Homo sapiens: one gene and its partner. Each later gene encodes a partner of the first gene's protein in a complex. Each region holds a gene or a part of one and is shown on either strand. Other genes may lie near its edges. The genes, in order: AFTPH and SYNRG.

Evidence for each region.
Region 2: AFTPH (region 1) and SYNRG share a complex: the UniProt entries of both Homo sapiens proteins name them as parts of the aftiphilin/p200/gamma-synergin complex.

Annotation. Positions count from the first base shown.
Region 1 is NC_000002.12:64,590,025-64,593,505, forward strand, and holds the end of AFTPH (aftiphilin), read left to right. Parts: intron 1-1,860; coding exon of another isoform or gene 1,861-1,863; coding exon 1,864-2,011; 3' UTR 2,012-2,981; downstream 2,982-3,481. UniProt on the Homo sapiens protein: Component of clathrin-coated vesicles.
Region 2 is NC_000017.11:37,599,402-37,606,704, reverse strand, and holds part of SYNRG (synergin gamma), read left to right. Parts: intron 1-6,301; coding exon 6,302-6,342; intron 6,343-7,303. UniProt on the Homo sapiens protein: Plays a role in endocytosis and/or membrane trafficking at the trans-Golgi network (TGN). May act by linking the adapter protein complex AP-1 to other proteins. Component of clathrin-coated vesicles.

The DNA of each region.
Region 1 (3,481 bases):
GTCAGTGATCTCTGTCCATTTCAGTGAGTTTTCATTTCATCTACTTAGGCTATATTCAGATTTCTCCAACTATCCTTTCTCAGCTTTGTACAAACCAGTATTCAATTGAAGACTATTGTACCTGGCTGTTGGGGCTCTTAAGTCCCTTTTAACCTAGCATATCTCCTCATTCCTTCTGTTTTCTTATTAACAGTAGCTTATATAAAGATTAGTATAGGTGTCCTACAGAATGTCCTAAAAGCTCTGGATTTGTCTGTTTGCTTCCTTCAAGTAATATTTGCTGTGTTCTCTATCTCCCTATTTTCCTGTAAATTGGAAATTATATCTAAAGGCTTGCTGAATTCAGGGTAAATATTTTGGCTAGAATGCATCCTAGGTGTTATATCACATCAGAAGATCCATACATCTGGTTGACTCCATTGTTAGTGGTGCTGAGATTGACGATTGGTGAGAAACTGACCTTTTCCATTATACAGTTCCAGGTTTTCACTTGTCATGTATCTGGTTTTACTTTGGAATGATGCAGATATCCAGTTCCCCATCAAACGTCCACATAATAGTTTTGCCACTATTTAAGTGCAATTAAAAATGTAGATTTTCATCAGAAAAAAATGTTGGATTGCTATTCCATTCTTCTAAGAACCTAGTACTGAATGCAGTATTTGGTTCATCTGCTATATGCCTGATGCTTTTTCCCTTTTGAAAAACTTTAGTCCTAAAAGTCGTTGGATTTTTCATTCATTCTATAAAATCTTTTTATTTCAGTCTGGATTCAAAGTGGTAACAGAAAAGTCCTAGGAATAAAAAAGCCTGTAGCTATCCTTCCTTTCTTGCTTTACCTCCTGGCTTCCTGCACCCCATCCAAGGAAAAAGGAAACATTTAGGTCAAAGAAATACCTTGTGTCACATCTAAGAATACCAGCTATCCTTTACCATAAAAGAGAATTATTAGGCTTTTTATAATGAACAACTTGAAATGATTTTTGGTCTAAAGCGAATAATATGTATAACTACTCCTTTAATATATTTAATATCCCAGAAAAAGTTTGAATTGCAATCATGTGCCCAATTTGAGGCTCATTTGGCATTTTCTGTGGCTCACCTGCTGAGTAGACCTGGGTCACCAGGCATTTTCTTGTCTGTGTTAGGCACCAAACTGCTAATTTCCCATATCGGGGGCCAGTGCAGCAAAATCTACTTCATCTACAGGACCCATAGGATTTGAGATTTCCCTCACCCAGAGTTCCGTCCTGCCTGTGTACGTGCATAATAACACCAGCAACCAGCCCTAGTGCTGCTGCTTTTGGACCTGCTGTCTGTATCCCAACAGGCTGAGACTGGGTCTTCTGAGCTGAGAGCTTTCTCTCCTGGAATTCCCCACTGGGGATAAAGAGAGCCTGAGGTTAAAATGACTTAGTCTTTCCCTGGGCACACTTTGTTTCAGGCTGAGGTAGTTTTAGCGGGTGGAGGGGCAGGGAAAAACCCAGTTAGGTGGAGTGTTACTAAGGCTTCAGATTTATATTTCTGTTTAGTAACATTTTAAAATTATGCCTGGGTAGATGCTTCTAGCCTAATGTAAAGGCTAGAAAGTACACGAGCTGTCTAGGTGTGCATGTGAGTATCTGTGTGTGCATGCCTAGCTTTAATGAACATAAATAGGCCGCACGTCACTCTTCATGAGATTTGGCATTTGGCACAGGAAGCATACTGCACAAAAGTATTACAAGATTCAGGAACTAGCAGAGGAAAAAATACTCAAGTCCCCACAGATTGCTAACTGTCTACCTTGAGAGTGGATTGTCTCCCATTTTACCTACAGCAAAGTCACATTAACACACTTGTCTTTTTTTCATTTGTCAGTAGGAAACCGAAAAGAGAAGAGCACCTAAGTGAAGAAGCTATCAAGGTGATCGCTGGCCTTCCTGACTTAACATTCATGCATGCCAAGGTGTTGATGTTCCCAGCCACGTTAACACCTTCCACAAGCTCTCAAGAAAAAGCAGACGGATAACTGATGTGAATTGGACAGTTTCTATTGCTTTTCCTTTTTTCCATCCCTTCCCTACCATCAAAAGCATACCTGCTCTAATTAAAAAAAAAAAAAAAAAAAATTCAAGTTCAGCTGATTTGTTGGTAAGCCGCACTAGAAAGGTATACATAGTAATGTATATTTATTTACATACTGAAGTCCTAAATTTATATTAGAAAAATGTAAATAATCGGGGGTAAACATTTTTGAAGATTTATTCTTTTTGTGTTGCTGGGGTGTATACATTTATGTCTTTGTGAAATACACTGGTGGTGTCCTTCTTACAAAACTTTTGAAATAAAAAAAAAACTCAAATCTTCACTGTCTGTGAAATCCCCTTCAGTCTTTTCAGATTGCATTGACTGTCCTCTTGATTTTTCATATTACATGTCAAATTACTTTTGCTATCATAAATAAGCTCCAAAGTCCCCCATTTAATTTTTTTTTAATTTTGTGTATGATGGGTTTCAGATCTGGCTTTTGTTAACATTTTGGGGCTTTTTTAATCTTTTCAATCTGGCGTATTGCTGTTTGACCTTTTGCAAGGTACTTAATTGCTCTTTTGTTATAGGGTATGGATCATTGTCAGAACTTGATTGGAGGGGTTTAAAGAGATTGTGTCTGTTTAAAATCAGTATGATTCAGAGAAGGACCAAATTATATGAATGTCTTACAATGGAATTTACTTGTTACTGATTTTTTTGTTCTATTGTACCACTATTTTTTGAGGATTTTGCACAGTGTAAAATGACATAATCATAGATTGCTATGGTTTAGGCTGTATATACAGTGAAAACTATGGGTTTTAAATGTTTGGGGAAATTCCTATGGAAAAAAGAGAGACATGTAGAAGAACCTCTAACAAGGTTAATGTGCATGCCCAAGGTCTTTTGAAATTTCAGTGTGTAAATTTCCTTTTAGCTTATACAAAAATAAAATAATTTAAAAGAAATTTAGCCTGGTGTCTTTGTACTTTGGTATGTGAGGAAAAATGTAATGAGTTTGAATGAGAAGTTTTGTTGAATATTAACATATTTCAATCCAGAGAAAATCTTTGGTAGGGCTTCTACTTTGTTGAAGCCAGGAAGAATTAGAATCTGGCCTATAAGAATTGGATCAGCACTTTTAGTAGCTGAGCTGTTTGTTTTTATATAGAACATGAGATCAGTAAAGAAATTCCCATGATTCATTATAATGTGTCTTCATCAGAGTATTGGCAAGGTTAAATAGGGATTTGTAGGGATTTTTTTTCTTTCCAAGAATATATAAGCGTGAAATGAAGGTAGGCAGAAAAAGTCTAAAAATTTTAGAATATTAGATATTGCTTCAGCAAAAAGTCACATGACATTGCATCAGGAACAGGCAGTCAGCTGACAGTCGGCCTCATCCACTCTGGGAATGTGCCAGTGGAACTCCTGCACCTCTGTCATTGGCAGATTCCTGTGTTGCCAG
Region 2 (7,303 bases), on another chromosome or scaffold:
GTATAAAGGGCAAAATTTGCCCAAGAGATGAGAAGTATAAATTTTTTTTTTCTTTAATCAAGGCAGAAAAAAAAAAGAGTTGAAAGATCTGGATTAGTCTGTAGTCATTGAATGCTTACATGGGTAAGGTACTGTTCTTGATGCTGTAATGAATTAAAAAGACATCAAAACATGGTCCCCATCCTTGGAGAATGTACAAAATAACTGTGGTACAAAGTAAAGTGGAACAAAGAGGTCACGTTCTTCTGGGATGTTATCATCTGTGAACTTGTCTATTTTTTCCTGATCTTTTACAAGCTTTTAGAGGGCTTCCTCATCTTTTCTTCTTTCACTGCTTCTAGCACATTTTTGCACATAAAAAACATTCTGTAAATATTTGTGGATTTCAGCTATATCAAAGGCAAAGAAGTGGTATTTCATTTGGCCCACAGAGTTAGAGGAAGAGGAAGCGGTCAAGAGATCGTCACAGAGATGGGAAGGCCTAGTCAACACTAAGGAAACGATGTACCTGCAGTGCCAGATGACTGTGGCTCTGAGTGGCAGAGAAGAGTTTTGTGAGATAAAACTGCAAAGTAGAGTTGTGCCCAAACTAGAGAGGGCCTTGAGTTTAAACTAAGGAAATTCAGTTTCAGGGAAATCATTTCATAGTTTTAACTTCAGGGGTGCGTCTTGCTAAAGGACCATTTAATTATTGCGTAATGGTCCATCATTTAGAAAGATGTCTCTCACTTGTGCTGCATCAGATGAATTAGAAACCAGAGTCTGGAGGTGGGGAGATCCATTAGGAAGTCTTTATGTAGGAGTTTAGGCCTAAGAAGTGAAGCCTAGTGTCAAATCTAGGTTAGTAGCAAAGGTAACTGAAAAGGAGGGACGGATGAGATAGGTAAGTGACAGAGCTCTGCTTTCATACCGAGATGTCAGTAATATAAGAATTAGTGGTTTTACCTTTGAAATTAAATTGTTGGTCACCTTCCTGCCCAGTTTTTTGCCAAGCTTTTACTGTCTTATTAATGCCTTAACTGCTTATCTAACCAATCTTTAAGCATGTTGTTATTAGTTGTCTAAACATTTCAGAGAAAAATATGAATTTTTCATAGGTCACTAAGCAGTTCGATTTGCTAAATTCTTACTAGAGAAAGTCATGTTTGACAGTATTTTGTTTTTATTTCATTTTCAAAGTAACCTTTATACATCTGTTTATGTATTCATGTCTATGTGATTGTCTTAGCTGAGACTTTAGCAGCCTTGATTCTACGTCCTCATTTGACAGAGGGGAAACCAGACAGGGGGTAAAGGAGATTGCACAGAGCTTCACAGTTACTTTATGGCAAAGCTGGAAGAAAGAAAATATACACGAGTTTCCAATTCTTTTGAGCCTCTAGGCCATATGACTAATTTAAATGTTTAAGCCTGATTTTTAAAAATCTTGACAGCTTGATTACTTAAATGTATTCATTGCTCCTGAATGTATCAATTTTAGCATATGAGTAATGTCTTTAAAAACTGAATACAGGCATACCTCATTGCAGTTAGCAGATACAGTGTTTTTTATAAATTGAAGGTTTGTGGCAACTCTGCATTGAGCAAGTTTATCCGCGCAATTTTTCCACAGCCTGTGTTCACTTCATGTCTCTGTCACATTTTGGTAATTCTCACAATATTTCAAACTCTTTCATTATTATTATTTGTTATGGTGATCTGTGATCAGTGATCTTTGATGTTACTAGTGTAATTGTTTTGGAGCACCACAAACCCAGCTCGTATAAGACAGCAAACGTAATTGATAAATGTTTTGTGCAGTCTGACTGCTCTACCTACCAGCTGTTCCCCGGTCTTCCTCTCCAAGGGCCTCCATATTCCCTGAGACATAACAGTATTGAAATTAGGCTGATTAACCCTACAGTGGCCTCTAAGTGTTCAAGTGAAAGGAAGAGTCGCCCATCTCTCCCTTTAAATCCGAAGCTAGAAATGATAAAGCTTAGTCATTAAGTGTTGAAAGCTGAGGTAGGTCAAAAGCGAGGCCTCTTACACCAGTTAACTAAGTTGTGAATGCAGAGGAAAAGTTCTTGAAGGAAATTAAAAGTCCTATTCCAGGAAACACAAATGTTAAGAAAGTAAAACAGCTTTATTGCTGATATTGAAAAAGGGTGAGTGGTCTGGATAGAAGATTAAACCACCCTTAACATTCCCTTAAGCCAAAGCCTAATTTGAAGCAAGATCCTTAGTCTCTTCAATTCTGTAAAGGCTGAAGGCTGAGAAATAGGTGAGGAAGCTGCAGAAGAAAAGTTGGAAGCTAACAGGTCAGTTTATGAGGTTTAAGCAAAGAAGCTATCTCCATAACAAAAAAGTACAAGGTGAAGCAGCAAGTGCTGATGTAGAAGCTTTAGCAAGTTATTCAGAAGAGCTAAGATCATTGATGAAGGTGGCTACGCTAAACAATAGATTTTCTTTTTTTTTTTTTTTTATAGACAGAGTCTCACTCTGTCACCCAGGCTGGAGTGCAGTGGCGTGATCTCGCCTCAATGTAACCTTCGCCTCCCGGGTTCAAGTGGTTCTTCTGCCTCAGCCTCCCCAGTAGCTGAGATTACAGGCACGCACCACCACGCCAGGCTAATTTTATATTTTTAGTAGAAATAGGGTTTCACCATGTTGGCCAGGCTGGTCACATACTCCTGACCTCAGGTAATCCACCCACCTCGGCCTCCCAAAGTGCTGGAATTACAGGCATGAGCCACCATACCTGGCCAGATTTTCAATGCAGGTGAAGATGCCATCTAAGACTTTCCTAGCTAGAGAGGAGAAGTCAATGTCTGGCACCAAAGGACAGGCTGACTGTCTTGTTAGGGCCTAATGCAGCAGGTAACTTTAAATTAAACCAATACTCACTGACCACTATGAAAATCTCAGGGCTTTTCAAAAGTATGCTAAATCTACTCTGCCTATAGTCCATAAATTGAACCACAAAGCCTGGGTGACAGCACATCTGTTTACAGCATGGTTTACTGAGTATTTTAAGCCCATTGTTGAGACCTACTTCTCAGAAAAAAGTTTCTTTTGAAAACGTTACTGCTTCTTGACAATGTGCCTGGTCACCCAAGAGCTCTGATGGCAATGCATGAGAAGGTTAATGTTCTCATGTCTGCTAAAGCGGCATCCATTCTCCATGAATCAAGGAGTAATTTCTTCTTTCATCTCTTATTATTTGAGAAATTCATTGTAAGGCTATATCTAAGGCTATAACGCCCATAGATAGTGATTCTTTTGATGGAACTGGACACAGTAAATTGAAAACTTTCTGGAAAAGAATCACCATTATAATTTTTATGTTATTTATTGTTGTTGTTGTTGTTATTATTATTATTTTGGAGAGATGAGGTCTCACTATGTTGCCCAGGCTGGTCTCAAACTCATGGGCTCAAGCAATCCTCCCACTTTGGCCCCCCAAAGTGCTGGGATTATAGGTGTGAGCCACCAGACCCAGCCATTCACTAGATTCTCTAAAGAGTATCTAGAAACCTCCTTTTCAGATCCTTGACTCCCGGATTAAGAGCCTTTCTCACTCAGAAGTCTTCCTTGATTTGTCCCTTTTTCTTTCCAGGCTCAGAGAAAGAAGTCCCACTTCCTTTTCAAAGCAGATCCCTTTTGCTACTTTGTTTTGTTTTGTTTTGTTTTGAGACAGAGTCTCCTTCTGTCATTCTGTCTGCTCAGGCTGGAGTGCAGTGGGGCAATCTCAGCTCACTGCAACCTCCGCCTCCTGGGTTCAAGCAATGCTCATGTCTCAGCCTACTGGATAGCTGGGATTACAGGCACATGCCACCACGCCTGGCTAATTTTTGTATTTTTAGTAAAGATGGGGTTTTGTCATGTTGACCAGGCTGGTCTTGAACTCCTGGCCTCAAGTGATCCGCCTGCCTTGGCCTCCCAAAGTGCTGGGATTACAGGCATGCACCACCTCATCTGGCCCCCTTTTGCTCCTTCGCGTGTTAATCCCATTTCCTTAAAAACCTTATAAATCACTAGGTATGTATTTTGTCTCTTAAATTTTTTCTCCCTAGGGTCTCTTCCCCTTTCTTTGTTGAAACTAACTCACTTAACAATCACCATTTTTGAAAGCAGTGATTTATTTTTTAATCTTCATTCTCACCGCTATTCTACAGCATTAGACACTGGTAACTACTTCCTTGTTGAAATGTGGTCCTTCTTCAGTTATAACTCTCAGTTATAAGCACTCCCTTGGTTTTCAATGACCATTTCCTACTCAGTTTTCACTGCAAGAATTCTCCAAGTTTGTCCTTAGTTGTTTTGTTACTGGATATATGCCCTTGGCTATTTCATCTACAACCAGAGCTTAATTTTTTTTTTTTTTTGAAACGGAGTTTCACTCTTGTTGCCCAGGCTGAAGTGCAATGGCGCGATCTTGGCTCACTGCAACCTCCGCCTCCTGGGTTCAAGTGATTCTCCTGCCTCACAGCCTCCTGAGTAGCTGGAATTGCAGGCATGCACCACCATGCCCAGCTAATTTTGTATTTTTAGTAGAGATGGGGTTTCTCCATGTTGGTCAGGCTGGTCTGGAACTCCCAACCTCAGGTGATCCACCTACCTTGGCCTCCCAAAGTGCTGGGATTACAGACGTGAGCCACTGCGCCTGGCCAGAGCTTAACTTTTTAACCTTTATTTATTTATTTATTTGAGACGGAATCTCACTCTGTCGCCCAGGCTTAACCTTTATTCAAAAGAGCCTAGGCCAAGTGCCGTAGCTCATGTCTGTAACCCCAGCACTTTGGGAGGCCAAGGCAGGCAGATCATGAGGCCAGGAGTTCAAGACCAGCCTGGCCATCATGGTGAAACCCTGTCTCTACTGAAAATACAATAATTAGCCAGGTTTGGTAGTGCTCGCCTGTAGTCCCAGCTACATAGGAGGCTGAGGCAGTAGAATCACTTGAGCCTGGCAGGCGGAGGTTGCAGTGAGCTGAGATCATGCCATCACACTCCAACCTGGACGACAAGAGCAAACTCCGTCTCAAAAAAATAAAATAAAAATAAAGTTGTCAGCTTAAAAAAAACCTTAGAAGAGAGCTTTCTTACGCTCTAAAATGAGGACTTATTGTTTAATGGGTACAGAGTTTCTGTTTGGGATGATGGAAAGGTTCTGGAAATGGATAGTGGTAATGGTTGACAATATTGTGAATGTCCTTAATTATGCCATGGAATTATACACTTAAAAATGGTTAAAAATGATAGAATTTTATGTTATGTATATGTTACCACAATAACAATAAAACCTCTGACAACTTCATATAATATTCAAAATAAAATGAAACATTTTAAAGGCCCTTGACCAGGTGCGGTGGCTCACACCTGTAATCCCAGCACTTTGGGAGGCCGAGGCGGGTGGATCACCTGAGGTCAGGAGTTTGAGACCAGCCTGGCCAACATGGTGAAACCCTGCCTCTACTAAAAATACAAAAAATTAGCCAGTCGTGGTGGCGGGTGCCTGTAATCCCAGCTACTCAGGAGGCTGAGGCAGGAGAATTGCTTGAACACAGGAGGTGGAGGCTGCAGTGAGCCAAGATCGCGCCATTGCACTCAAGCCTGGGCAACAAGAGCGAAACTCCATCTCACAAAAATAAATAAATAAATAAAAATAAAAATAAAGGCCCTGTACAATCTGCTTGCTTTTAAATCATATAGTTAACATTTAACCTACATTCATTTCTCCAAACATCCCTGCATCTCTGCCTCAGAGCTTTTGCTCAAAATATATAGTGTGCTTCTATTTTCCTTCAAGATTCAGCTCCAGAGCTACTTCCATAAAACTTCTCAAGATATAGCCCATTAAAATTCATCTTTTTCTTCTCATCTCTATTAATAATTTGGACCTCGCTTATAGCAGTTAGCACATTTACCCTGTGGTATAGTTATTTGCCTGCATATGTGTATTTTTGATTATAAGATTCCATCATTTCATGTAGTTGACACTCAATAGATGTTGACTGAATTGAATCTAAACTCTCTCATTTTATAGATGGGGAAACTGGAATCCAGAGAGGACACGAAGTGACAGAGCCAGGACTAATTTCAGGGTCTTCTGTCTTTTGTTTCAACAAGTTTCCGTCTGCAGTAGCATGCTGACATGCATCCTATGGATGCTCAGTGTACTGATGTTGGGCAATTCAGTATTGTGGTGCAGAACAAACACCAGGTCCCATCTACAAGTCTTTTATCCATATAAAAAAGTACACGTGTTATTTGAAATCTTTGTACATACGAAGATTATAATGTATTTTTATTCTGTTTTCAGCTTCATGTTTCCTGTTGCAGGTGGGATAAGACCCCCTCAAGGTATGTGAGAGCTTAAGTTTTGAACTTTTATTTTTCACTCTTGTGTTTCTGAATCTGGGAATTAAATAAGTAAATAGAAAATAAGTTCTGTTGCTGCTGAATAGAGTAAAATTTTCTGCACTCTTAAACCTGTATGTCCTATATGACAGCTACTCTTAAATTTTCTCAAAAATTATATAATTTTGGGAGTAATAAGGATCACTCCTCGTTTCTCCCAAACTTACATAGACATTATGTTCATAGATTGTTTAACCTCAGAGGTGAAAGACTTTTAGGACAAGAATGTTAAAGAACAGGTGATAAAAATGAAACGAGCTGTAATTCACTTAATGATGTCTTTCTCCTTCTATCTAGTCTTCTGCTAGATTGTTAGTGCCATGTCTGTCTAATGCTCATCTAGCATTATTTGTAGCACCCAGCATGTTGATTCAGCACAATAGGTTATCTGTAGATGTTTGTTGAATGAATAAACAAACATCTTTAGTTGTTTTACACTGCTATTTTTTATCTATATGATAGTATCTTATTATAATCATGTTTTATAAATATATAATTTTGAAATTAAAAGAGATCACATAGTCTGATTCAGCTTAAGTATTTAAGTCTCAGGATTTTGTTTGGTTTTTTATTTTTATTTTTGAGATGGAGTCTCTTGCTCTGTCGTCCAGGCTGGAGTATAAGTGGCACAGTCATAGCTTACTGTAGCCTCAGCCACCTAGGCTCAAGCATTCCTCCCACCTCAGCTTCCCAGGTAGCTGGGACCACAGGTGCATACCACCACGCCTGGCTAATTTTTAAATATTCTGTAGAGACAGGGTCTCCCTATGTTGCCCAGGCTGGTATCAAATTCCTCGGCTTAAGCGATTCTCCTGCCTTGGCCTCCCAAAGCACTGGGATTACAGGCATGAGCCACCACATCCGGCCAAGTCTCAGTTCTATTCCTAGAAATTTCTCTAAGTAT